Linked DNA regions of Homo sapiens: region 1 is reported to be linked to region 2. The links are microRNA targets in miRTarBase. Many come from high-throughput screens and were not tested one by one. Region 2 holds a microRNA gene; the other region holds the end of a gene's coding sequence.

Region 1 (13,554 bases), not on the chromosome of region 2:
GTAGTCCCAGCAACTCGGGAGGTTGAGGCAGGAGAATCACCCAAACCCGGGAGGTGGAGGTTGCAGTGAGCTGAGATTGTGCCACTGCACTCCAGCCTGGCTGACAAGAGCGGAACTCCATCTCAATCAATCAATCAATCAATCAATCAATAAAATTGATAGTGGTAATGGATGCACAACTCTGTGAATAAAGTCATTGACTTGTATACTTCAAATGGGTGAATTGTAAGTAAATTATATCTCAATAAAGCTGTTACCAAAAAATCAAATGCTAGACTATTTAACATGGAAAACCATTCCCATTACATTGTTAGGTGAAGAAAGGGAGAGAGAGAGAATGGGGCCCCAGGGCTGCTGGGTTCCATAGCTCCCTGTGAATGATGGCCCTTGGAGATGCAGAATGAAATGTGGGATTTCACCCCTCTCCATGATCCATGCATGCGTGGTGGAAATTGACTCTGGCTGCCCAACTCCGCAGTGGCGTGCAACTCACTTTCTCTCCAACTCATCCTTCAAAGCCCTTTAAGGGATATTTGGTTACAACATGGTAAAATATAATGAGATTCCAATTTTTGTTTCTATTAAATATATTAATATATAAGCGCATGTGTGCATGAAAATAGATACACATCAAAGGATAACAGTGGTTGTCTACAGGTAGAAAGGTTATGGAGCTTTTATTTTCTCCTTCATATTTGTATTGCTCTAATTTTCTGTAATGCAGTGTATTAATTTGCAATTAGAAAAATATATATATGTATTTTAAAATGTGTCTATAACCCCAACACTTTGGGAGGCCAAGGTGGGCAGATTGCTAGAGTCTAGGAGTTCAAGACCACTTTGAGCAACATGGCAAAACCCCGTCTCTACAAAAATACAAAAAATTAGCCGGGCATGGTGGTGTGCACTTGTAGTCCCAGATACTCCGGAGGCTGAGGTGGGAGGATCACTTGAGCCTGGGAGGTTGAGGCTGCAGTGAACCGTGATCACACCAGTGTACTCCAGCCTGAGTGACAGAGCAAGACCCTGTCTCAAAAAAAAAAAAAATTAAAAGATAAAAATAAAAACATATTGTTTTATTCTGTAAGTCTTCTCTGCCTGCCTCACTCACATAGTAACACTCCTTTTATCCTCACATTTATAACCCTGTTTAACAGGTAGTGGCATAATTGCTTATCTTCTCCAACAGACATCTGAAGACAGATATCATTCCTAATTTATCATTCCATCCAAAACCCAGAAATGCCTGCCTTTGATATGCCTGGTGAACATAGTACGCATTACCAAATACTAAGCAGTATCTTCTGTGTGAAGCCTACATTAAAATTTTATTCAAGACTTTGTACCCTTTGAGGAGACAGTAATACAGTCCCTTCAATGCTTTATATTATCATGAAGGATTATTTCCCTTTTTGCCCTTGCTGCCAGGAAGCTTACTTGCATCAACTGTGTTGCTGGCTTACAGTTGCACATCTGATTCTAACTTTCTTCCTTGAGTCTAATGTGTGGCATTTCCTCAACTTCTTTTTGAAAATAAACCAGCTACACTCAGTGTAGCTCTATGCATGAGGTAGGAATAAATAAATAAATAGTGGCTACTCTGTTGAGGATAAAATATTTTCTTTGGAAATCCAAAGTGGTATTTTATCCTAAGAGGGATGGTAGCATCAACATCTAAGGGTGCTCAGGCACAATGTGTCCAGAACCAGAGGCTTGGAGCAACTCAGTTTTAAGCCCCGGAAGGGATGAAGCATCTTCCAGTTCTGTATACTCCCCAAGTACCTACACAGAGCTGGGCGAAGAGTAAGCACCCTTTAAATACCTGCTGCGTGAATACTCAGGGCTCAAAATTCCGTATCCTTGCCATGCAAGGGGTCACAAAGTTTAACCCAGGGTTTCTCAGCCTTAGCACTTCTGACACTCAGGCCAGTGAGTTCTTTGTTGTGGGCTGGTTGTCCTGGGTGTTGTGGGATGTTGAACAACATCCTTGGCCTCTACCCACCAGATGCCAGTAGCACCCCTGCACATAAATTTTTTGACAATCAAAAATGTCTTCGAACATTGCCAAATATCCCCTGGGGGCAAAATCTCCCTCTGGTTAAACAGCATGGGTTTTTGCCAGGTGTGGTGGCATGGGCCTGTAGTCCCGGCTACTTGGGAGGCTGAGGTGGGAGGATCACCTGAGATCAGGGATTGGAGACCAGCCTGGGCAACACAGCAAGATCCCATCTCTAAAAAAAAAAAAATTAAAAATTAGTCAGGCATGGTGGCTCATGCCTGTAGTCCCAGCTACTCAGGTGACTAAGATGGGAGGATCACTTGAGCCCAGGAGTTCGAGGCTGCAGTGAGCAGTGATTGTGCCACTGCACTCCAGCCTGGGCCACAAAGCAAAACTTTGTCTCAAAACAAACAAACAAAGAAACAAAAACAACAACAAAATGTCTTCAAACATTGCTTGAAGTGGGTGGTGTAAAATCTCCCACTGATTAAACAGCACTGGTTTCAAGCAACACCTTCCAGGTCCTAGAAGCCACCAACTACAATTCTAGAATACCAGGGCTGGAAGGACCCCATGCATTATCCTGTTGACATCCTTTCATAGACAGGCCAATGGGCCCAGAAATAAGAGACTGAGGCACAGCCCCTGCCCACAGGAAACAACAAAGGGTGATCAAAACGTGCCAAGGCAACGCGCTGCCCCGGCCCTGCTTGCACGCAGATTGGAGTTGCAGGTGGCTCCTCCATGTCATGGTGTAAACTTGTGCTAAAATTAACCTGAGCGTCTGAGACTTCCTCTATAAAATGACAAAAAAGAACACCTGGCTGGGCGCGGTGATTCATGCCCTGTAATCCCAGCACTTTGGGAGGCCAAGGTGGGCAGATCACCTGAGGTCAGGACTTCAAGACCAGCCGGCCAACATGATGAAACCCCATCTCTACTAAAAATACAAAAATTAGCCAGGCATAGTGGCATGCACCTGTAGTCCCAGCTACTTGGGAGGCTGAAACAGGAGAATCGCTTGAACCCGGGAGGCAGAGGTTGCAGTGAGCAGAGATCGCGCCACCGCACTCCAGCCTGGGTGACAGGACTCCATTCCAAGAGAAAAAAGAAAAGGAATGCCTGGCTGGGTGCAGTGGCTCACGCCTATAATAATCCCACCGTTTTGGGAGGCTGAGGCAGGCAGATCACTTGAGCCCAGGAGTTCAAGACCAGCCTGAGCAATATATCGAGATCCCCATCTCTACTAAACATTTTTAAAAAATAACTGGGTGTAATGATGTGTGCCTGCAGTCCCAGCTACTCAGGAGGCTGAGGTGGGAGGATCACTTGAGCCTGGGAGGTTGAGGCTACAGTGAACCAAGATCGCGCCACTGCACTCCAGCCTGGGTAACAGAGTGAGACCCTGTCTTGCTCTCTCTCTCTCTCTCTCTCTCTCTCACACACACACACAAAAGAAGAATGCTGGTCTCTGAAGATGGGGATGGGACGCTGCACGTGCAGAGTGGCACATGGCAAGTGCTTCATAAATGTTTTTCTTTGTCTGAGTATGAATGGTTAAGAGGCCTATCCCACTTTTCGTGTTGGCGGAGGGTGCAGGAGGAAGAAGGGGGTAGCTGTGAGTATTTATTTAAGCCTTGGGTCTTCTCTGCACCAGCAGCATGCCCAGTTCCCTCTTCTGCAAGGGCTACTTTCCTGAGTCCCTGTTCACAAAATCGCCCGGACCCAGGAAAGAGTCCTGATCTGTCATCCCCACCAGATGGTTCTCATCTATAGAAACAGCTTCATTGTTTTCAGGAGAGAGAGCTCCACGCAGGCACGGGGCCCATAATCTCTAGACAACGATCACATTGAGGACAGAAAACCTATGGCATTGGTGCCACCAAGTGGCACAGAAAGCAATTGTCGGTGTCTGTGCCACCCGCGCTGCCTTGCTCTCCACTTTCCATCTCTCCATCTTCTCCTCCTTCCCTTGAAATCGCACCGCAAGTGTCATTTGACTACACTGCCATCCTTCGAGGTCTGAAAGGGCTGCAGTGAGAAGAAAGGGCTTTACGATCACATGTGACTCGGCTCTGTAGTTCCTCCCCGTGCTAAATCAGGTCAATGAGCTGATTTGTGTCAAATAAATTAGCCCAGCCGGCTGCTAAGCTGCTCCAAGCCTATCTGTCTTGGGCTTCCAGGTTGGCATTTAGCAGGCTGCAGGCACAGCCCAGGCAGGTATGGATGCCACGGACGGAGCTCGAGGAGCACGCCCTGAAGTGCTGCCCAGATGCAAACCTCCCGGGAGAAACTGAGTCCAGCACGTGCCTAGGGAAGAGAGCACAGTGGATTCCAGCTCCCGACATCCTGCTGCAGATGCCACGGAGCATTTAGGAACATCTTTAGAAACTGAAGTCCTTTATACCCTCGAAAACCACCATGTAGACCAGCAGCTTGACAGGGCGGAGCTGGCTGGTGCTGGGGGAAATGTGGACTGCCTTGAGCTCAAATAATCTTACAACACCAGGTAGCCAGTAAGACGGTCCACAGATCCTCCCCTAGCCTTTTTATATTTTACATTTCTGCATTTAGCAATTCACTAAAATAAATGACAGGCTCAGGAGATCTGGAGTGCAGTTTTCCCGATCTCTGCTCTCTCAGGAAAGTCGAGTCACGCCGAGAGACACCCTGCCGTGACAGGTTTCTTCAGCATCCCTAATGCAGGTCAACTCCGGCCGCGACAAATGCCTATAATTTATTTGTGCAGAACAAAAAGACTTCCTTCCCCACTGCATAAAATCAGACAAGGAAAAAGCAGGCAAAGCTAAACTCCTGTGCAATTATGAAAGGGTTTTAACCTCTAACTGGGCTTCAATCTTCCAGGCAGGATGATAGAAGTGGAAAGTGCGCTTGCCTGCTCTGCAAATGAATTCGCTATCATTGGATTAAATCAATCTAACAGGAGCTAATTATTTTAAAATAATATGGACAGCAGGGTCCTACCTTTATTTACATACAAATACAAAATCCACGTTTATATACAAAATACAGGCAAAACGCTCCAGCGGAACTTTAATTAGTGGTTATCTCTAGGGGCTGGGAATCTAATTTGGCACAATTTAATTTCTTTGTAAGTTCATACATTTTAAGGTTTCTGCCTGGTAATCACAAAAGCAGAGAAAGGAAAACCTTTTACTGAGCTGAGCAATGCCTGTAGAAGCCCTGCTTAGTAGGAGTTCCAAGATGCTCTGTGTATCTCAGGTGAAGCACACCTAAATAATTGAGCACTGCATTAAGGCTCAGAAACGTAGTACCGTTGTGTGCTTCTCTGCCAAAAGGCAGCTATTTTTATGACAGAAAACACAGCAGCTGTTTTCACAGGTGCAGGGCAGCAGTACATGGGAAGTTGGTCCCAGCAGAGAAGGATATGGTGTCTCTTTAAAACTGGAGGAGGAAGAGGCAGAAAATGGTGAGCCCCAGTTGAAATCTGCAAGAGAGAAGGAGGAAGCCCTGGTTTGGAGAAAAACGGGCTCCAGATGGCTGGGCTACATTTGTCCTGTGAAAATCAAAAGCCTGGGACCCAGCCGCTGGGATACGAGGGCTCTGGTCTTGCTTTAACAGCCAGGGGGACTTTTGGCTTGTTACAAAAATTGGAATTTGGATCTGCAAGATACGCTAGCCATCACCCTTAATTGACAAATGAGGAAACCAAAGCCGGAGAGGGTAATTTACTCAAGGTCATTAAGGTCAGTGCTCTTGTCAATAAAATTAGGATATTGCTCACATACTTCATACTGCTTTTGTTACACACACACACACACACACACGCACACACAGAGCCAATGTATGGAAACATCCCTGAGAATATATAATGTCATCACATTTACTATTCAAATTAGCATCAACTGGTCAAATATTTATTCAGGTAGTAACTTACTCAACATTTCTATCTTGACATCCCCCAGTACAACTTAATACAATGCCCCAATCCCCACAGGACAGGACAACACTCTCTCTCGCTCTCTCTCTTCCTTAAGAATAGTGAGATGTGGCCAGGCGCGGTGGCTCACTCCTGTAATCCCAGCACTTTGGGAGGCCGAGGTGGGCGGATCACGAGGTCAGGAGATCGAGACCATCCTGGCTACTAACACGGTGAAACCCCGTCTCTACTAAAAATACAAAAATTAGCTGGGCACGGTGGCGGGCGCCTGTAGTCCCAGCTACTCGGGAGGCTGAGGCAGGAGAATGGCGTGAACCCAGGAGGCAGAGCTTGCAGCGAGCCCAGATCGTGCCACTGCACTCCAGCCTGGGCGATGGAACGAGAATCCGTTTCAAAAAAAAAAGAATAGTGAGATGTGACCAACATAGCCTGGAATCTTAAATTACTGATAATGGTGATTTCTCATTTAGACAACACTTTTTTCCCCTCCTCAGACAGGGTCTCACTCTGTGGCCCAGGTTGGAGCACACTGGCGCAATGACGGCTCACTGCAGCCTTGACCTCCTGGACTCAAGCCATCCTCCCGCCTCAGCCTCCTGAGTAGCTGGGACTACAGGTGTGCACTACCATGCCTGGCTCCTTTTTTTTATTTTTTGTAGAGACAGGGTCTCCCTATGTTGCTCAGGCTGGTCTCGAATTCTGGGCTCAAGCAATCCTCTCACCTTGGCCTCCCAAAGTGCTGGGATTACAGGTGTGAGCCACCACACCCGGCTGCCAACACCACTTTCGATTTTGGGATAATCTGGGTGCACAGTGATCAGAAGCTTACCTACCCCACGTTGCATAAAAAAAAGTATGAATTTAAAAATTCCAAGAGTAAACTACCCTATGAAAACCTCTGGCAGTGCTGATGAAAACACATTTCTGGTAGTGATATGTCTTGGTCCCTCTGGTCTCACAGAATGTGTAGTCCTGAGAAAAAATAAACCTGGACTCTTGGTAAAATATTTGAATAATTAACTGCTTTGCTCATTGGTTGTAACTGGCAAGTCATTCTCTTTACTACATTAAAGTCTGCACTTTCATTTTACAGACAGTCCTACAGTTCAACTCCAACATCAGGGACTGAGTCGTACACAGGAAGATCACTGAGTAGGTTCTGTGGAGACGCAGTCGGCCCATATGCACGTCACCACTCGGCTCCCAGCTCAGGTGCAGACCAACGGCGACCACTTGCTCCACTTTGCTCTGTGACAGCAGACGAGGTAAGGCATGTTGCAGATACATGCTGAATATAGGGATGCCTGTACACAAAACTGCACTCATGCTGTGATAACACGCAAAAGGTCACACACTGGAAGAGCCTTGCCCAACGAACGATAGACTAACAGGCCAGAGGCGGGGAAAGCTTCTCGGAGTCCCACTATCTTCTTTGTTTTTATTGCTCCTACTTACTTATGTGATACCTTTTTAGTAGAATGACTAGTTTTCTAAACAGAACCTGTAATGACAGGCTCACATTTCTTCCTCAACTCCCACCTCCAAAGCCACTCCATTCAAAGAACTGCTGGTGAGGTGCTGGGGAGTCAATCCGTCGTAGAGGGGAAGCGTTCTACCCCTCCAGATCCTTCTGCAGACAGGAGGGTGTCTGCATTCGGCGGAGTCCAAGAGTGCGGTGAGGACACAGTGGCAAAGGAATAATGCCATTCCTTGAGGCAGCGCTGGGCTAGTAGAGACCTGTGAGGAAGTAATGTGTCCTGTGGGGATTTCAGGGTAATTTAATCAGCAGCACTTCAGCAGGGTAGAAAGCAAGGGCGGGGAAAAATAATGAAGTCAGCACTCAGCTACCAGGAGCTCCTCTGTTCAATCTAACGGGGAGATATGACCCCAGAGCAGGGCTTCCCTCCCTCCACCCGGCTCCCACTTCCAGCCAGGTAATTCTGTGTCGTGGGGGCTGTTGGGCACCATCCCTGGCCTCCCTCCACGAGTGCCCACAGTACTGCCCTCCTCCCCACCTGTGACAAAAATGTCTCCAGACATTGCCAAATGTTCCCTGGGGGGCAAAATTGCCCCTGTTGAGCACCACTGCCCTAGATGAACTGGAAAAGTTGGTTTGTGAATATGTGAGCTTAGTTGTTTCTAACACAGGGCTGAAAAACAAGAGAAGGGGACAAAGGCTGCTTTCATATAAAAATGTACTGTAGTAATCAGTAAGAAAAAGAAACAACATTGGCTAAGTCACGAATAGGCATTTCACCATATGTACATGATAAATGGCCAATCAAAATAAGGAATGGGGCTCATTCTGCTGGAAATTAAATACATTCAAACAAGAACAGAGATCCATTAGCAAAATGTTTAAAAATAATATCACAGGGTTACCAGGGGTATGACAAAAATGGACACTTCCATACACACTAGGTGAATATATTGGTGAAAATAGTTCAGATAAACATACAACCATGTATGTAAAAGTATTTATCATCAATGCATTATTTGTAGTAGCAAAAACAACAAGCAGCCTTGGAAACCAGTTAATGTCCTCAGCAGGGAATTAATAATATTATTGTATATTCATGAAATTGACACCATGTGGCCACACAAATGCATTACACAGGCCTCTATGTAACATAGGATATTCATTAGAGAATTGTTTTTCAAGAGGACAAAGTACTTTCATTTTTGCCTAGAAAATGGGGGAAGACAAAAATGCGCTTCTCTCTAGGTTGTGTGATTTTAGGTTATCCTAAGTTTCATCCTTACGTGCTCCTGAATTATCTGAAATATCGTATCTTTAAAAACAGTAACAACAATAGTAACAAGAGCTCTGTAATTCCTACCCTTCCAACCTCAGGAGCCCACCCACCCCTATCCGAGCCGACCCCTGACTGCCCCTGCCATTGCTCCCTGCTGAGTTGCAGACATTGACTTCTTGCCAAGCCTCAGGCCTTGCTCACATCGACACCTCACAGTGACCCTGAGAGGCAGATGCTGTGACCCCATTTCACAGATGAAGGGCCTGAGCCACAGAGGAGGAAGACTGCCTCAGCCACGCCGCTAGTAAGTGGTAGTTCCCAACTCTAGAGTCCCAAAAGAATTCTGTCCTACTTATGAAAAGTATATCCAATAAGCAGTACCTCCCTGTGTTTACAACTTATCTGCTGATCCCAAGGATGGGAAAAGCTGCACTCAGAAACTTGCAAATTGTGCAACTGTTCCCCACGATTCCCTTGGGGCCAGTGCCGACTGAGGCATCTCCAGGAGGCCCCAGTTGGGCTTGGGGACATGCTGAGAGGTGACAGCACTGCTCTCAAGTCATATCCTCTGCTTCTGCAAAAGCTGTGGAGCTCACCCATCAATAGCAGCTCCATGCCGGGCGCAGTGGCTCACGCCTGTAATCCCAGCACTTTCGGAGGCTCAGGCGGGCAGATCATCTGAGGTCAGGAGTCCGTGACCAGCCTGGCCAACATGGTGAAACCCCGTCTCTACTAAAAGTACAAAAACTTAGCTGGGTGTGGTGGTGTACGCCTGTGATCCCAGCTACTCAGGAGGCTGAGGCAGGAGAATTGCTTGAACCCAGGAGGGGGAGGTTGCAGTGAGCTGAGATCACGCCATTGCACTCCAGCCTGAGCAACAGAGCAAGACTCCATCGCAAAAAAAAAAAAAAAAAAAAAAGGCTCTAGCATTGCCAGATCCCAGGCCCTGTGGAAGGTATTTCCCTCCCTCTTTTGTCCTTGCTTGTCTCAGAGCCCTTTTCACAGTCTCTTGTGTGCTTCTTTCCCTGTTAGGACCAATCTTTACAACTCCAGCAAGCGCAGCAAATAAGATGCAGAACTGGGGGAGATGCAACGTATGACTCAATTCCCTTGAGCCGAAAACACTCACTTATTAACAATATTTTTTTCTTTTTTTTGAGACAGAGTCTCACAAAAACAGGCACACGCCCCCACACCCGGCTAATTTTTGTATTTTTAGTATAGATGGGGTTTCACCATATTGGTCAGGCTGGTCTGAACTCCTGCCTTCAGGTGATCCACCTGCCTCAGCCTTCCAAAGTGCTGGGATTACAGGCATAAGCCACCACGCCCCACCAATGAAATGTTTTCTAAAGGTGTTTTCATCCCTTTTGTGATCTCCTAAACTCCCAAGGTGTATCACACACTTCGCTGGGCTCTGGGCAAACAAAACTTAGACAAGGTCCCTGATTCTAGAAACCCTCGGTCGAGGGAACCACAAACCAACCAGAGTGGAGGGCAGGGAGAGGTCCTAGGTTGGGAGCTGGGAGCCTGGAGCACGTGCCAGGTGCTCTGCAGCCCAGCTTCATTATGGAGGCTCAAGCGCTGTGAATTTCCAAAAACAGTGAACACACCCCTAGCTGATTGAAATACAAAAAACATATTCCACAGCCAAATGAAAATGACTTTTGGATCCTCCACCTAATTTGGGTGTTTATGCCGCCTCGCCCCTCTTTTGGCCTGGACAATTGAAATATATCTGCTCTCAGGGGAGACGCCCACGGTGTCAGGGCTGGAGTTGGCAAGAGACAGGGGGAAGAGGACTAGACCTGGAGTCAGAGATGAAGTTCTTGTCTGGGATCTGTCACTAAGTCTCAGCGGGGACCCAGGAAGTCACTCCACCTCTCATAGTTCCTCATCCACAAAGTGGAAATACAAGCAAGTTTAATTCTCCATCGTAAGGTTGGAGCTCCTGTCTGTGAAAGGACTGGAAATGTAAAATGCGCTCTTCAAGTACAAAGGCAGAGAGGATCCATAAACAGGCACAGGCTGCCCTTTGGTATAAACTGTTCACATTAAATCTATGTTATGTTGCTCAAGAGTTAAAATAAGCTCAAAGGAGAGGCTGATTCCAATGTCAACCCAGGGAAGACAGACACTGAAATTCCAAACTGAGTTACCAAAAACAATAGATGGATGAGACATGCAGACATGCCACAATCCGGCACATCAGAGTTCGATGTAGTCCTGCTGCAAACACATGGAATCCGAGAAGTCCAATGCAAACGGAATAGATTTCTTGGGATCTAATATTTTTCAAATTGCCTGACCAGCTTACCTTCTAGGAAAACTTATTTAAGGGAGGCAAATAATTTGGGGAGATGAGTATAAGAGGTAGTAGGAGGAAGCTAAGGGAAATCACCACTACATATTGCAGGAATGTATTAGAAGGCAAATATGGCCCAAAGAAAAAGCTCCACTGAAAAAAACATTGAATACTGACCACAGAATTAGCACCTTGCTCCCAGGTCAATAAAGTGAACCAAAAAAATTACAAAGACCTTGCTCAATCCTGAGGTTCGTGAGGAATATAGGAGAGTTGTGTGTTCACGTGACTCCTGAAAACAAAGAGCAGTACTATTCGAAGGGCATGATGTCTTGATCTTAGGATCAAATATTCTAGACCTTGAGCCGGAGAATCTGCATTACAGTAGGAAAAATGGGGAGTGCTTTATGCCTGTGGATTCAGGACACACCAGCAACCTACACGTGTAGCATTCTCTAAGTCATAATGACCATTCTCATCTCCCACTGAGGGCAGGTGTAAGACTCTTCTCTTGCAGTGCTCTGATAGAAAGCTGGGTTTCTTCTTCTTCTCTATAAATCATAGGGAAACCAAATATTTGTACCTGTTACAGCCCCAAAGCTGAAAGCAATAAAGAATAAACACATACAGCAAGCTACGAGGTGCGTCTGTTTAGGAATTGCCTCAACGTTGGGTTTCTATTGATAGAACAGGGGAGGAGGTTGCCTCTGACCTTCCTGAGGCTCCCACTGTACCCTGGCTGAGTAGCCCACAGTTAATTTTAAGTGGCAAAAGAAATGAGAACAAATTCCTCCAGGAAGAGAAATTAGATTTCTGCTAAAACAGTGCTCTCCATAGGGTATATGAGCACATTCGACTACCACTGGAAAATAACCTGAGGGCAGGCACATGGTGCCCACTGTTAGAAATCGTGCAGTTAGATTAGAATGGAAGAGTGTCTGAGTTTTTAGATAATTTTACACGTCAGGATATGGCTAACAGGTCACGTTCAGGGCCTATGCTTGATACTGTCGAAATACAAACAAAAATAACTGCCTAGAGAGAATATTCACGTCCTAAAAGAGAAAATGTTGTATCTGGGTGGAAGAATGATTTAACTCCTGAAACTCGAGAACACAGAACAACAACAAAAATAATTTCCTTGAACATATTCAACTAGAATGGCAAGGCATTTTCCTACATAAAACATTAGAATGTTCCCATTACTCCAAAGGAATCCAATAAATAATTTTACAGTGAAAGAGCCTGGATCAAAACTGGAAGTGACACCGGCCCCCGATGAACACAAGTCACAGGTCCCTGTGCAGGTCCCAGGGCTGAGTCATCCAAGAACTCCACCACCACCGTGAGCCCGGCCTCCGGTTTCATCTTTCCCGAATGGGACTGGCTGGAGGGGCCAAGCTGCTTTACAGAAGAGTTCCATCTGGTAAGCCCGGGTGGTGAGCGAAGCCAAAGATGACAACACGAGAAGGGGTCAAAGCCAAGGTTTCCTCACGCTGCCTTTGTCTTCTTCCTGCAGCCTGGCCCGATGGCTGAAGCTGGGTCCCAGGAGGCGAGTTCTTCAGCGGGGCCTCCTCACCCAGGCTGGAGCAAGTCCGCTGCACCCGTCAAGCGGGGAAGAGCTCGGGCGGGCTTTCTCCATAGCAATACTTTGCTATGGGGTCCCGGTAGGTGTTCTCATGCTGCACGCTCTGTTGGCAAAAGGAAAATAAGAGCGCAGTGAGAGCGAGCACAGCTTCACACACCTCCCTCTCGGAAGAGTGAGAGTGGATCGGGACTGTCAGACTCTCCCTGCAGGGGGCTGGCCGAGTCCATCTCCAAATGTCACTAAAGGCTCCAGGGCACTTTCTGGAACAAAGAAGAATGCTCAACCCAGAATGCCAATGAAGAGCATGAACACAGACATAACATCGCTGTGGGACTGTTTCTTTTTATGTACACCAGTGAGTTTTTAAATAACTTTGCTGTGACCTGGTGACTCAAGACAACTACTTTTCCTCAAATTACTTGAAACAGTCTAAGATCCAATGGGTGTTTTGCACCTGATCCTGAGCTTCACTCAGTTCCCGTAAGGAACCCTGCAGAGACACTAAGGAGATGCACTTTAAATTGCTTTCATAAAGTTTATGTACCTAAAAATTTGGGGCATGAGCCAAATCCTACAATACCATGCAAGCCTCATTTGGCTAAGCAAATTGGAAGTGTGATTTAAAGCAGACAATCATTCCTGATGGCTAATTTTTCAGCAATTTGTTTTCATACAAGCAACTTGGGTTTTTGGCTAGTCTAGAATTCATTAATTAGTCCAAGACCAATGCTAAGCAACAAACTTGTAAATATTCATCCAATTTAACAGACATATAGCCAAGTCTTCTCTTTCTTGGGATACTTTTATCAAAACAAATCAAATGGCAATTGGGAAATCTTTTTATGGTAAAAAAGACCAAGTCCTAAAGTATAGTAGCTTCACTGAAGACTGGAAATAATTCCTGGGTTTTATCAGTGAAGGAAAGAAAATACTTCGCCTTTTCTAGCGTTTCTCAGAATGAGAGAGAATCTGAATCAAAATGAG
Region 2 (14,644 bases):
GGACCAGGCTCAGTGCAGTATCTCACTCCACTAGTACTGCCCACGGGGCACAGCTGTGACTTTTTTTATTTTCAGTGGGTGGGTATGGACTGAGGTGGCAGGGCTAGCATTTCGCACAGGGGCCTGGTTCCAGACACCGAGCTTCGACGCACTGCACTGACCTGCCGCGTGGGTGAAAGCACCCCGGCAAGACTGCGTGAGACAGGGTGGTGCCTTGGACAGAGGGGTCACTCTGAGGTCAGGCCCAGGAGCAAATCCCGGTTCTGGCTGCACATCTGCTCTCAGGCAATGTAGTTACCTTTCGAATCTCAGAGTCCTGAGCTACAGAAAGCCTGCTGGGTAGGGGGTTCTGAGGCTTCCTTGGGCGTGTAGCACGTGTTGTCTATAGAAGCGGCTCTGGTCATCATTGGTAGTGGGGGTGGCCGGCTCCTGGACCTTCTGGAATCTGCAACTCCCTCCACCTCATCCTTTTCCCTTAAAGTCCTACCTCCCTTCTGGGATCTCTTCCCAACCTTGGCCTTGCATCGAGCAGCCTCCCAGGTGTTTAGGGGAAGTAAACTGATCTGTCAGGCACTGAATGGGACAGAAGTGGCCCTTGGTTGTTCTGAAAGTTTCCTCGTGTCCAAGGCAGGCCTTTCTCTGCCTGTGGGCCAGGGAGGGCACTGACTCTATCTCCTCTTTTCAGACAGCGGTGGCCTACCCGAGCGCAGTGTGTCCTTGACAGGAGCCCCAGAATCTGTCCAGTAAGTCCCCACAGGGCCTCTCATTGTGATGTGGGGGGCAGGCAGAAGCCTGCTCTGTCCGTTTGAATTGAAAGTTGGGAGCAACTTGCACGCCATGTCCTCCATTCTTGCCCCCATCTCCAGACAGCCATGTTAACATGAGGCTGATTCCCCGGCAGCCCAAGACCTGGGGAACCTGGAGCCTGAACAGCCCCTGTGACTGGCCCCTCTTCCCTGTCATCCTTGCACACTCTGGGGTCGCCTTCCCTTTGAGCTGGGTGGGCCACCAGACCAGTACCTTTCTCCAGCGGTGGCACCCGCTCATCCCCCGCTCCTCCCCTTCCCAGGAAAGCCAAGATGATGCTGGATGACATTGTGTCTCGGGGTCGTGGGGGCCCCCCAGGACAGTTCCACGACAACGCCAACGGGGGCCAGAACGGCACCGTGCAGGAGATCATGATCCCCGCGGGCAAGGCCGGCCTGGTCATTGGCAAGGGCGGGGAGACCATTAAGCAGCTGCAGGTGAGGGCAGCACCTGGGCAGCTTCCTCTGCATCCGTGTGCCACACCCCACCGCCACCACCACAGCAGCCCAGGAAGTCCTGGGAGAGCCCAGCACTAACGGTTAACCTTGCTTGTAAAGGAACGCGCTGGAGTGAAGATGATCTTAATTCAGGACGGATCTCAGAATACGAATGTGGACAAACCTCTCCGCATCATTGGGGATCCTTACAAAGTGCAGGTGAGCACGCCCTGGGGTGGTGGAGGGGGTTCTGGAGAGGCACGGGCAGGTGGGCAGGGCCAGCGGTCTCGGGGTCTGCATTCCGCCAGAGAGATATGTGAACAGTCGGTCATAACACCAAGAGGCTTGCAAGAGCGCTGGCTCGTAGGATGGCCCTGAACTGACTCCCAGCTTTGTGTGTGTGAGGCACCGGCCTCACCTCTGACCTTCTGCTTTTTTATCTGGAAACGGGGCTGCTGGTAGTGCCTCCCCATTAAAGTGGCAGGTAGAGAGCTCAGTAGGGTGCTGTGCTGGGCTCACCCAGGGTTCGTGGGTCCTTAGTTGAGGCCCGCACCCCCGAGGAGGTGGGGGGGTGTGGGGCAGCAGGGCTCACCCATGGGGGCTGCTTCCTGTGTGTTTGCAGCAAGCCTGTGAGATGGTGATGGACATCCTCCGGGAACGTGACCAAGGCGGCTTTGGGGACCGGAATGAGTACGGATCTCGGATTGGCGGAGGCATCGATGTGAGTGTGGGCCCTGCCTTCACCCCCCTCTCCCCCGCCAGTGGAGGGAGGGGCCGGGGTGAGTGGCTCCTTGTGGCCAGTGGGCAGCAGAGGGCAGCAGAGCTGCGGGCCGAGCTGACGCTGCTGCCTCCCTCCCCAGGTGCCAGTGCCCAGGCATTCTGTTGGCGTGGTCATTGGCCGGAGTGGAGAGATGATCAAGAAGATCCAGAATGATGCTGGCGTGCGGATACAGTTCAAGCAAGGTCAGGGCCTGGCCCACCCTGCCCCTGGCCAGTGCACCCCCACCCTCTTTGGGAGGCAGGCTCTGAGGGAGCTGGGCACCGTGGTCAGCCAGGTGGCCTCCATAGCACCTCACGGCTCTTAGTCCAGCCGTCAGAACATGGCCAGTCCCTTCTCTTCTCTGGGACAGACACATGAGGGCTTTCCACATCCAGGGGGAACGTGTGTTCCTATCCCTATCAGATCTCCTCTTCCTCCCCCTACGATGGAGCCTATCCTGACAGGACAGCCCTGGGTGCCCCGCAGGCTGGATCAGGGCACTCCACCTCAGCTCTGGGCTCTTGCCAGTCCTCAGGCAGTCTCTGAGCTGCCTGCCGTGGGGAGAAGGGCCCCTCTGGCTTTTCAGAGATTTATTGTTCTGTAAAATCTCTCAGTGCTGGGGGTGCTGTGTGCTGGAAGAAGCTTGAGCCACCTCCTGGCTTGGCCGTGGGTTTCCTTCTCTGGGAATGTGGGCCGCCTCCCCCTCAATCCCTGAGCGAGTGGAGGCTGGGAGCGGCGCAGCGCGTCTGAGATCTCAGGCCGGCGTGGTGTCTGCGCTGGAGGCGGCGTTGCAGGGCTCTGGGGTGGGCTCTTCTTTTAAACTTGTGTCTCTGCTCTCTCGGTGCTGGCCTCAGATGACGGGACAGGGCCCGAGAAGATTGCTCATATAATGGGGCCCCCAGACAGGTGCGAGCACGCAGCCCGGATCATCAACGACCTCCTCCAGAGCCTCAGGGTAGGTGGCCCCGGGTGCTGAAGGGGCTGGCAGGGCCTCCAGGGGAGTGCAAGACCAGACCGGCTTCCAGGGTTCATCATCCTCCTCCTCCTCTTGTCTTGCAGAGTGGTCCCCCAGGTCCTCCAGGGGGTCCAGGCATGCCCCCGGGGGGCCGAGGCCGAGGAAGAGGCCAAGGCAATTGGGGTCCCCCTGGCGGGGAGATGACCTTCTCCATCCCCACTCACAAGTGTGGGCTGGTCATCGGCCGAGGTGAGTGTGGCCCCCTGCACCCTATCCCTTGCCCCCTCTTCCCTGGGCCATCACTGCAGGCCACCTTCACCTTCTGCGTTTCTGCAGGTGGCGAGAATGTGAAAGCCATAAACCAGCAGACGGGAGCCTTCGTAGAGATCTCCCGGCAGCTGCCACCCAACGGGGACCCCAACTTCAAGTTGTTCATCATCCGGGGTTCACCCCAGCAGATTGACCACGCCAAGCAGCTTATCGAGGAAAAGATCGAGGTGGGTTGGGGCGGGCTCTGGGGATTTGGTCTCACAGCCCGGATCCCAGCCCACTTACCTTGGTTACTCTCCTTCCTTCTAGGGTCCTCTCTGCCCAGTTGGACCAGGCCCAGGTGGCCCAGGCCCTGCTGGCCCAATGGGGCCCTTCAATCCTGGGCCCTTCAACCAGGGGCCACCCGGGGCTCCCCCACAGTGAGTATCCTCTGCCTCCTGGGTTTTGAGGCCGGGGGCTTACTGAGCTGGCAAGAAGAATAGCAGACCCCATTTCCCTTTCCCTAGAAGTGCAGGCGGGGGGCCTCATCCAGCCCATTTTTGTGGATACCATCAACAGGCCCTCTCCTGTCTACTGGTAGAGCATGTGCCTTTCAGCATCCCTCTGTGCACGTGCAAGTTTCGCGGCTTCTTTCATGTCCTCAAGCTGACGCTGCGCGTCCTTCGAGTTGCTTCTTGTCTAGGCCTTTCCCAGGCGCCCCGTTGAGCCTGGTGGTCTGGGTCTCTGGCGCCTCCCCACTGAAAAACATCCCCACCCCAGGTGGTCCGGCTGCGGCCACCCCCGCACCACTGCTCAAGCATCCCTTTCTTCTCTCCTGCAGTGCCGGGGGGCCCCCTCCTCACCAGTACCCACCCCAGGGCTGGGGCAATACCTACCCCCAGTGGCAGCCGCCTGCTCCTCATGACCCAAGTAAGTGATGGGCCACCTGGCGGAGGGCAGGCCCTGTTCTGTCCCCCCGTCTCACCCGAGGTATCTCCTGCAGGCAAAGCAGCTGCAGCGGCCGCGGACCCCAACGCCGCGTGGGCCGCCTACTACTCACACTACTACCAGCAGCCCCCGGGCCCCGTCCCCGGCCCCGCACCGGCCCCTGCGGCCCCACCGGCTCAGGGTGAGCCCCCTCAGCCCCCACCCACCGGCCAGTCGGACTACACTAAGGCCTGGGAAGAGTATTACAAAAAGATCGGTGAGTCTGCAGGGTGGCGGGGGGGCTCCAGCCCTGCCGGGGGAGTGGTTTCTGACCTGTCTCGGCGCCCGCACAGGCCAGCAGCCCCAGCAGCCCGGAGCACCCCCACAGCAGGACTACACGAAGGCTTGGGAGGAGTACTACAAGAAGCAAGGTGAGTGGCCACCATGCGGGGACAGGGGCAGGGGCAGCCCTCACCCACAGCCTCTCACCTGCCTTTGTCCACCCACAGCGCAAGTGGCCACCGGAGGGGGTCCAGGAGCTCCCCCAGGCTCCCAGCCAGACTACAGTGCCGCCTGGGCGGAATATTACAGACAGCAGGCCGCTTACTACGGACAGACCCCAGGTCCTGGCGGCCCCCAGCCGCCGCCCACGCAGCAGGGACAGCAGCAGGCAAGTGGGAATTGCCACCCTCCTCCTCCTCCTTTCTCCTTCCAACCCCCGGCCACCGTCCATCCTGCCTTAGTGGGTAGCGCCGGAAACCCCTTCCCCTGCGGGGTGTGCCCTTGATGCCTGCAGCGGGGGCCGTGTGGCCGGAGGTCTCCGGGAGTCCCCACGCACCGCCAGGGAAGCATTCGCTGGGTCCAGAGGTTAAACGAAGAGGCCTCCCTGCGCCGGCTGCTTGTTCCTGTGTGCCGCTGTCGTGATGCTGGGGAGCGCTGAGACTCGCAGGCGGGACTTCTGAACTGCTGGGGAGTCGGGGGGCAGGCAGACAGCGCGGACGGTGGGCACCGGCCCGGCCGCCACCACCTCGCTCACAATCTGGCCACTTGGGAAGAAAACGTCTATTTTTTCCCCTTCTCTGCATCACTTTTTTGGTTTTTGTTCTTTTTATTCTTTTATTTTTTAAACCCATGATCTTTTTTCCTGTGTCCAAGTGACTGTGTTGCAGGCGGCCTGGCTCTGGCAGGGACTGGTGGGGACGCGGGGAGCGGCCCAGGCCCCTGCCCCGCCGGGCTCAGCCTCCCATGCGCTCGCGCTTGCCTGTGTCCCGGGCTTGTCTGTGAAGTGGGCGTGAAGATCGTTGCCACCTTCCAACCTACCTCACAGGGGTGTTGTGGGGACACCATGATCTCTGGATTGTTCATGTCGTCGTGCTGCGCCGGGAGCCACCGCCCTCCGGAGACAGGGCAGCTCCCCTACGACCCTAGCGCCTCCGCCCTCCGCGGCCCCTCTCCTCTCTTCCTGCTCTGTCCCTCCTTCTCCATCAGGGAGCAGCGTGACTTCAGCGAGTCCCGCGAGCACCTGGCTAGACAGTTAACAAGCACGTCCTTCCAGCCTGAGCCAGCGCAGGTTTGGGAGGGGGCTTCCTGGCCCCCCCCACGGTGTTCCAGCCCCTCCTCTCTTCCGCCCCCTAGTCTCCCACCCTTCCCTCCCCGTAGTGACCAATTCCTATCTCTTCCCTCTCCGCAGGCTCAATGAATCGAATGAATGTGAACTTCTTCATCTGTGAAAAATCTTTTTTTTTTCCATTTTGTTCTGTTTGGGGGCTTCTGTTTTGTTTGGCGAGAGAGCGATGGCTGCCGTGGGGAGTACTGGGGAGCCCTCGCGGCAAGCAGGGTGGGGGGGACTTGGGGGCATGCCGGGCCCTCACTCTCTCGCCTGTTCTGTGTCTCACATGCTTTTTCTTTCAAAATTGGGATCCTTCCATGTTGAGCCAGCCAGAGAAGATAGCGAGATCTAAATCTCTGCCAAAAAAAAAAAAAAACTTAAAAATTAAAAACACAAAGAGCAAAGCAGAACTTATAAAATTATATATATATATATTAAAAAGTCTCTATTCTTCACCCCCCAGCCTTCCTGAACCTGCCTCTCTGAGGATAAAGCAATTCATTTTCTCCCACCCTCGGCCCTCTTGTTTTTAAAATAAACTTTTAAAAAGGAAAAAAAAAAGTCACTCTTGCTATTTCTTTTTTTTAGTTAGAGGTGGAACATTCCTTGGACCAGGTGTTGTATTGCAGGACCCCTTCCCCCAGCAGCCAAGCCCCCTCTTCTCTCCCTCCCGCCCTGGCTCAGCTCCCGCGGCCCCGCCCGTCCCCCCTCCCAGGACTGGTCTGTTGTCTTTTCATCTGTTCAAGAGGAGATTGAAACTGAAAACAAAATGAGAACAACAAAAAAAATTGTATGGCAGTTTTTACTTTTTATCGCTCGTTTTTAACTTCACAAATAAATGATAACAAAACCTCCCCGTCTGCGGGTGCTGTCTGTCTCCCCCCCTTTCCTTCCCTCCCTGTAGTTTTGAAGCGGATGTTTGTTCTTTATAGATGTTGTTTAAAAAGCCTGATAATGGTGATTGAAATTTACAAACTTTGTGTTTTTTTTTTTTTAAGAAAAATATAAAATAGTTTTCTTCAGGCTCAATGTGCTTTCCTAACCGTGCCCCCCCCCCTTTTTTTTTTTTGTTAAATAAAGTGCTTTTTGTTTAAAAAAGACTGCGTGCTGGCCGCAGTTGTGTTTGTGAGAGGAAACAAGTTGAGCAAGTCTCAGCCAATTAGAGTGGGGTGTGGCCCCCCAAGACTTTCCCCTTCCCATGTGGGAAGGGGAGGCTGGCTGAGCCCAGCACTGCTGTCTTCCCCTACCCAGTTTCCCTCCAGCACCTTGGGGAGCAAGGCGCTCAGGAGGGCCTCAGGGACCGGCGTTCCCATGGATGGGCTGTTGCTACAGGAGGTCCTCTGGCCTGTTAACGTTCAGAGCCCTGAGGTGGGAGCCAGGCCCGCGTCAGTGCTCGCTGGGTGATGGGACCGGATGTGAGGTGGGAGAGGGCACCGAGGGGCCACCCAAGCTGTTTGGACCTGGGCAGGTGTCTTGCAGCCCCGCATGCAGCTGCAGGGTCTCTGAGGTTGTGGCTGAATGCCAGCGTTTAAAACTCGCTTCATCTTAGATGTCCTGGGCTCATGGGCCTGGTGATAGCCCCGGCAGGAGCCAGTAACAGCTGTGGCCTCTAGGGGGGGCTGTTGACAGTCCCCTGACCCATGCAGGTGTGCCAGGCACCTGGCCCAGTGGGGCATGTTCCTTGGTGGCCCCTGGCCAACCTCCCTGGTGGGGAAACAGACCCCGGGAAAGGGAACCTGTTGCTCTGGAATCACAGGGGGCATCGGTCCCCCTTTCTGGAGGTCTCACCTCCTAGGTACGCACCCTTCCCACGTACTGCACGGGTTCCGGTGAGGGGCAAGGCCCACCCCCAGCCCCTCTGTCTCACTGCAGACTCTCAATGACAGAGCAGCACTTGGCAAAGATGTTCTCTGGTGCTGCTTCTGCCGGGATCTAGAGAAAGGGGAGCCGCAGGGGTCAGGTCTGGGCCCCACGGCAGGGACACCACCCTCTCCCGCTCAGACCCTGGGAAAATCCCAGAGGCATGCACGTGAAGGGAGAGGGGACAGGGTCAGGAAAGCTTGTGTTGCTGACTGCTGTGTGAGGGCGTGCAGGGAGGCCCCACCAGTGTCCCATTGCCTTCCCACGTGAGCCAAGGCTGGGTTCTCAAGGCATTTCCTGGGGGAATGGGAATCCCCCAGGTTACCTGGTAGGAAAGCGAGGACCAGGCCCGGGTGACCCTGGACTGTTAAAGCCAGACTTGTTCCCTAGGGGTTGGGGTGCAGTGAGCCAGAAGCGGGGAGCACCTACGTTTCAGAGCAGGTTATTGCGCTGGTAGGTCAAGACCGGCTCACACAAGGTATAGTGCGTGTCCAAGCGCTGGTGGATGGCCAGCTCCGAGTCGTCTGCCCGGTGCTCCACCTGGCCCCAGTGTAGCACTCGTCGGAGCATCGTCTCCATGGAGCAGTCAAACACGATGACGACGCTGGGGGCCTGGCCCACCTAGGAACCCGAACAAGGGGGCTGGGTGTGGAGGGACCAGGCACAGTGGCTCCAGAACCCCGGCTTCCCCAGAAACCAGGTATCTAGGATTACGTGGGCAGGTAAGAAATAATCAGGCCACCCTGGTCTGTTTTATTTATTTATTTATTTATTTATTTATTTATTTATTTGGGCACGTAAGGAATAATCAGGCCACCCTGGTCTGTTTTATTTATTTATTTATTTATTTATTTATTTATTTATTTATTTATTGAGATGGAGTCCCACTCTGTCGCACAGGCTGGAGTGCAATAGCACGATCTCAGCTCACGGCAACCACCTCCTCCCAGGTTCAAGCAATTCTCCTGGCTCAGCCTCCCAAGTAGCTGGCATTACAGGTGCACACCACCACACCCAGCTGATTTTTGTACTTTTAGTAGAGACGGGATTTTGCCATGTTGGTCAGGCTAGTCTCGAACTCCTAACCTCAGGTGATCCTCCCGTCTTGGCCTCCCACAGTGCTGGGATTATAGGCGTGAGCCACCATGCCCAACCTTGTTTTATTTTTCTAGCTCAAGTTTTACGTATTTACTTTTTGGAGAGGACAGGACATTCACTGCCAAACACACACACACACACAGTGAAGCATCTCGCCATCTCCAACCACCCAGGGTCACTCTCCCTGGAGGCAGCCTAGTTACCTGCTCCTGTGTCTCCTTCGAAAGCTATGAGGCATGCACACTGCAAGCAAATATGGTTCTAATACTTTTTTCCTCCTCTTTTTTTTTTTTTTTTCCTTGAAACAGAGTCTTGCTCTGTCAACCAGGCTGGAGTGCGGTGGCGCGATCTCGGCTCGCCGCAACCTCCGTCTCCCAGGTTCAAGCAATTCTCCTGCCTCAGCTTCCCAAGTAGCTGGGATTACAGGCAGCCACCACCACGCCCAGCTAATTTTTGTATTTTTAGTAGGAACGGGGTTTCGCCATGTTGGCCAGGGTAGTCTCGAACTCCTGAGCTCAGGTGATCTGCCCACCTCAGCCTCCCAAAGTGCTGGGATTACAGGCATGAGCCACCGCGCCCAGCCTAAAAAGTAAAATATTCTTAAGTGACTCAAAAGGATACTTGCACAGAAGGATCAGATATATATTCTTGGATAGAAAGACTCAACATTATAAAGGAGCTGAGTCTTCCCAAACTAGTTTATAATTGTCATGTGATCCAAATGTGATGCAATGGCCAAGCATGATGGCTCACGCCTGTAATCCCAGCACTTTGGGAGGCTGAGGTGGGTGGATCACTTGAGGTGAGGAGTTCCAGCCCAACCTGGCCAACACAGTGAAACCCCATCTCTACTAAAAATACGAAAATTATCCGGGCGTGGTGGTGCACGCCTATAGTCCCAGCAACTCGGGAGGCTGAAGCAGGAGAATCGCTTGAACCCGGGAGGCAGAGGTTGCAGTGAGCAGAGATCACACCACTGCACTCCAGCCTGGGCAACACAGCAAGACTCTGCCTCAAAAAAAAAGAAAAGAAAAGAAGAAAGGAAAAAGCCAACAACCTGTCAGAAAAAAAAAAAAAATATATATATATATATATATAGAGAGAGAGAGAGAGAGAAAGAGTTTACTGAAGAAGACAACAAAACACCTTTCAAACTTTTTGTATTTTTAGAGACAGGGTCTCACTCTGTTGCCTGGGCTGGAGTGTAGTGGCAAGATCATAGCTCACTGCAGCCCTGAACTCCTGGGCTCAAGCGATCTCCCACCTCAGCCTCCTGAATAGCTAGGACTACAGGTATGTGTCCCTGTGCCCAGCTTGGCCCTTAAACTTTGCAAAAGATATTAAAACTCAATTGTAGCCAGAGAAATGCTCATTACAACCACACTGAAATACCACTTCTCACCTACACAGGTTGACAAAAATCCAAAACCTTGGCAGCATGTTCTGTAGGTCTCACTGTAAATGTAAAATGAAGAGGAATCTGGTGATGGCTAGCAAAATTATGCATTTCTCTTTAATCCAGCAATTCCACTCCTAATCTATTTCAAGGATACTAGCAAAAAGGTGAAATGACATGCAAAGGTTATTATTTAATGTGGCATTGTCTGTAGTGGCAAAGGATTGAAAGTAATTTATTGCCCATAGGAGATTAGCTGAATATACAATGGCGTGGCCACACAATGGAATACTACACAGCTGTAAAAAAAGAAACAAGGAATATCTCTTGACACTGATGTGAGATATTCTGGATGGATATATGGCAAAGTTAAAAAAAACAAAAAAACAGGCTGGCATGGTGGCTCAGGCCTGTCATCCCAGCACTTAGGGAGGCCGAGGCGGGCAGATCGTTTGAGGTCACGAGTTTGAGACCAGCCTGGCCAACATGGTGAAACCCCGTCTCTATTAAAAATATAAAAATTATCCTGGCATGGTGGTGCACGCCTGCAGACCCAGCTACTCAGGAGACTGAAGCAGGAGAATCGCTTGACCCAGGAAGCAGAGATTTCAGTGAGCCAAGATGACACCACTGCACTCCAGTCTGGACAACAGAGAAAAGAAGTTGATGTAATGAAATACTGCAAACGCACACAGAAGAGGATAGCGTGAGGAATCCCCAGACAGCCAGGTCTAACCATTGTTGTATCTGTGCCCAAACCTCTTGTGAATGCTGGTTATGGGTTTTTGGGTTTTTTTCAGACAAGGTCTACTTTTGTCACCCAGGCTAGATAGAGTGCAGTGGCGTGACCATAGCTCACTGGGGCCTTGAACTACCCAACTCAAGTGATCCTCCCGCCTCAGCCTTCTGAGTGGGGGGGAAAAAAAAGGATACAAGGTCATTTGAAATAATTATTTTCTGACTGGGCACGGTGGCTCACGCCTGTAATCCCAGCACTTTGGGAGGCCAAGATGGGCAGATCACTTGAGGTCAGGAGTTCGAGACCAGCCTAACCAACATGGTGAAACCCCATCTCTACTAAAAATACAAAATTAGCTGGGTGTGGTGGTGCGTGCCTTTAATCCCAGCTACTTGGGAGGCTGAGGCAGGAGAATCGCTTGAACCCAGGAAGCGGAGGTTGCAGTGAGCCCAGATTGTGCCATTGCACTCCAGCCTGAGTGACAGAGCAAGACTCCATATAAAAAGATATATATATATATTTTCTGTGTAATTAAGGAATGCAATAGATACATAGTTGGGTCATTTGTTTCAGTTAGGTTTCATTATGTAGGGTTGCCTGGCCAACCCTGTATTTTTATTATGGTGCATCTATAGTGGGATAGAGTTGGTCCTCCATATGCGTGAGTTCTGCATCTGTGAATTCAACTAACCTCAGACTGAAAATATTTGGATGCCGGGCGCAGTAGCTCACGCTTGTAATCTCAGCACTTTGGGAGGACAAGGTGGGCAGATCACTTGAGGCCAGGAGTTCGAGACCAGCCTGGCCAACATGGTGAAACCCCATCTCTACTAAAAATACAAAAAATTAGCCGGGTGTGGTAGTAATCTCAGCTACTCGGGATGCTGAGGCAGGAGAATCGCTTGAACCCAGGAGGCGGAGGTTGCAGTGAGCCGAGATCGCGCCATTGCGCTCCAGCCTGGGCAACAAAAGGGAAATTCTGTCTCAAAAAAGAAAAAAGAAAAGAAAATATTTGGAAAACAAGTTGCCTCTGTATTGAACATGTATAGACTTTTTTTTTTTTTTTTTAAGACAGGGTCTGGTTTTTTTCCCCATACCTCACAATGTCCAAAATAAAATTCTTTTTTTTATTTGTTTGAGACAGGGTCTTGCTGAAGTACAGTGGCGCAATCATAGCTCACTGTAGCCTCAAACTCCTGGGCTCAAGCGATCTCACCTCACTCTCCTGAGTAGCTGGGACCACAGGCGTGGGCCACCTTGCCCAGCCCAGAATTTTTTCCTTGTCATTATTCCCTAAGCAATACACTATAACAACTATTTACATAACATTTACATTGTTTTAGGTATTACAAGTAATCTAGAGATGACTTACAGTATATGAGAGGGTGATCATAGGTTCTATGCAAATACTATGCTATTTTATTATTTAACTCTTTGAATATGTAATTTATTTAGAGATGGGGTCTCACTATGTTGCCCAGGCCGGCCTCAAACTCCTGAGCTCCCACTTCGGCCTCCCAAAGTGCTGGGATTACAGGTGTGATTACCGTACCTGGCCACTACTGTGTTATTGTATATCAGAAATGTGAGCAGCCAGGTGTGGTGCCTCACGCCTGTAATCCCAGCACTTTGGGAGGCCGAGGTGGGTGGATCGCCTGAGGTCAGGAGTTCAAGACCAGCCTGGCCAACATGGAGAAACCCTGTCTCTACTAAAAATACAAAATTAGCCGGGCATGGTGCCACATGCTTATAATCCCAGCTACTCAGGAGGCTGAGGCAGGAGAATTGCTTGAACCCGGGATGCGGAGGTTGTAGTGAGAAGAGATCACGCCACTACACTCCAGCCTGGCGACAGAGCGAGACCCTGTCTCAAAAACAAACAAACAAAAAAACTTCAGCATCCATGGATTTTGGTATCTGAGACAGATCCTGGAACCAATCCCCCATGGATACAGAGGACCTACATATTAAAGGAAAACGAGGCCAAGCACGGTGGCTCACGCCTGTAATCCCAGCACTTTGGGAGGCCAAGGCGGGTGGATCACCTGAGGTCAGGAGTTTGAGACCAGCCTGGCCAACATGACGAAATCCCATTTCTATTAAAAATACAAAAATTATCCAGAGATCGCTTGAACCTGGGAGGCAGAGGTTGCAGTGAGCCGAGATCATGCCACTGCACTCCAGCCTGGACAAAGGACAAGACTCTGTCTCAAAAAAGAAAACTAAAATAAATAAATAATAATAATAAAGGAAAATGAGAGCTATAAAGAAATCTTAAACTTCCTTTTCTAATTTTATTCTTTTATTTATTGTTTTGACCCAATAATTGTACATGTGTATAGGGTACATAGTGATGTTTCAACACATATAGTTTTATTCTTAGTAGTTAATGTTGGCATATTGTTTTCAAACTATTTGGTATCTAATGGTATGATGCAAATGAGTATGTTAGTGGTATTAAGAACCAAAATTTTTAGGGAAAGAGAAAAGGGAAGGAACAACACTGTAAGTGTCACGTGAACGTGAAATATCAGAATGAACTTGTGATTTCTTTTTCTCTTTCAAGAGTATGTGTTTCTTAGCTCTGTTCACTGGGAAGATCCAGAAACGATGACAACCCAATAGCAACGAGTATTCTTTGAACCCTAATTTTGCACCACGAAAAGGGCTTCTGGAAAAGACCCATTCCAGGACTGAGCAAGAAATGTAAAAAGTGGGAGTTTAGGCCGGGCGTGGTGGCTCACACCTGTAATCCAAGCACTTTAAGAGGCCAAGGTGGGTGGATCACCTGAGGTCAGGAGTTCGAGACCAGCCTGGCCAACATGGTGAAACCCCATCTGTACTAAAAATATAAAATTTAGCCAGGCATGATGGTGGGCGCCTGTAATCTCAGCTACTCAGGAGGCTGAGGCAGGAGAATTGCTTGAACCTGGGAGGCAGAAGTTGCGGTGAGCTGAGATGGTGCCATTGCACTCCAGCCTGGGTGACAAAAAAAAATAAAAAATAAAAATAAAGCGGGAGTTTAAAGTCTTGTACCAGAAAACAAGAAGCATTCGACCACGGCCAGGCACGGTGGCTCACGCCTGTAATCCCAGCACTTTGGGAGGCCAAGGCGGGTGGATCACCTGAGGTCAGTTTGAGACCATCCTGGCCAACATGGCGAAACCCCCTCTCTACTAAAATACAAAAGTTAGCCAGGCATGGTGGCACATGCCTGTAGTCCCAGCTACTCGGGAGACTGAGGCAGGAGAATCGCTTGAACTCGGTAGGCGGAGGTTGCAGTGAGCTGAGATCGCACCACTGCACTCCAACCTGGGTGACAGGGTGCGACTCCATTTAAAAAAAAAAAAGAAAAGGCCGGGCGCGGTGGCTCACGCCTGTAATCCCAGCACTTTGGGAGGCCGAGGCGGGCAGATCACGAGGTCAGGAGATCGAGACAATCCTGGCTAACACGGTGAAACCCCGTCTGTACTAAAAATACAAAAAAATTAGCCAGGTGTGGTGGCGGGTGTCTGTAGTCCCAGCTGCTGGGGAGGCTGAGGCAGCAGAATGGCGTGAACCCAGGAGGCGGAGCTTGCAGTGAGCCAAGATCACACCACTGCACTCCAGCCTGGGTGACAGAGCGAGACTCTGTCTCAAAAAAAAAAAAAAAAGACATCCTCATTGTGGGGGAGCTGGGCGGAGGGCATATGAGACCTCTCTACTATCTCAGCATTTCCTTGTGAGTCTATAATTAATAAAAAGGTTTTAAAAAATACATACTTTATGGCTGGGCACGGTGGCTCACACTTGTAATCCCAGCACTTT

What was found. Region 2 holds the annotated microRNA hsa-miR-3940-3p (CAGCCCGGAUCCCAGCCCACUU, at 3,491-3,512, shown strand). A microRNA usually pairs through its seed, bases 2 to 8, with sites in the 3' UTR of a target mRNA and lowers its output. Matches are read on the target gene's strand: a 7mer-m8 pairs with bases 2 to 8, a 7mer-A1 pairs with bases 2 to 7 and ends in A, and an 8mer does both.
Region 1: the mRNA of SPRING1 is a reported target of hsa-miR-3940-3p. Seed matches in the 3' UTR shown: 7mer-m8 at 12,412-12,418 and 7mer-m8 at 12,331-12,337.

Annotation. Positions count from the first base shown.
Region 1 is chr12:116,705,221-116,718,774 of GRCh38, forward strand. It overlaps SPRING1 (SREBF pathway regulator in golgi 1), which reads right to left. Exons shown (of 5, transcript NM_024738.4): 5 at 4,951-12,673. The coding sequence ends at 12,590. Among named protein-coding and RNA genes, the nearest start is that of SPRING1, 26 kb to the right of the region's middle. RefSeq lists enhancers at 2,602-2,651, 3,952-4,131, 11,972-12,501, 12,502-13,031.
Region 2 is chr19:6,405,302-6,419,945 of GRCh38, reverse strand. It overlaps MIR3940 (microRNA 3940), which reads left to right and starts at 3,435; the gene lies at 3,435-3,536. It overlaps KHSRP (KH-type splicing regulatory protein), which reads left to right. Exons shown (of 19, transcript NM_001366299.1): 7 at 686-743; 8 at 1,070-1,244; 9 at 1,365-1,463; 10 at 1,867-1,965; 11 at 2,105-2,207; 12 at 2,859-2,959; 13 at 3,064-3,208; 14 at 3,296-3,456; 15 at 3,539-3,648; 16 at 4,050-4,138; 17 at 4,212-4,412; 18 at 4,489-4,566; 19 at 4,645-6,844. The coding sequence ends at 4,922. It also overlaps the pseudogene LOC390877. RefSeq lists enhancers at 6,600-7,424, 7,425-8,249.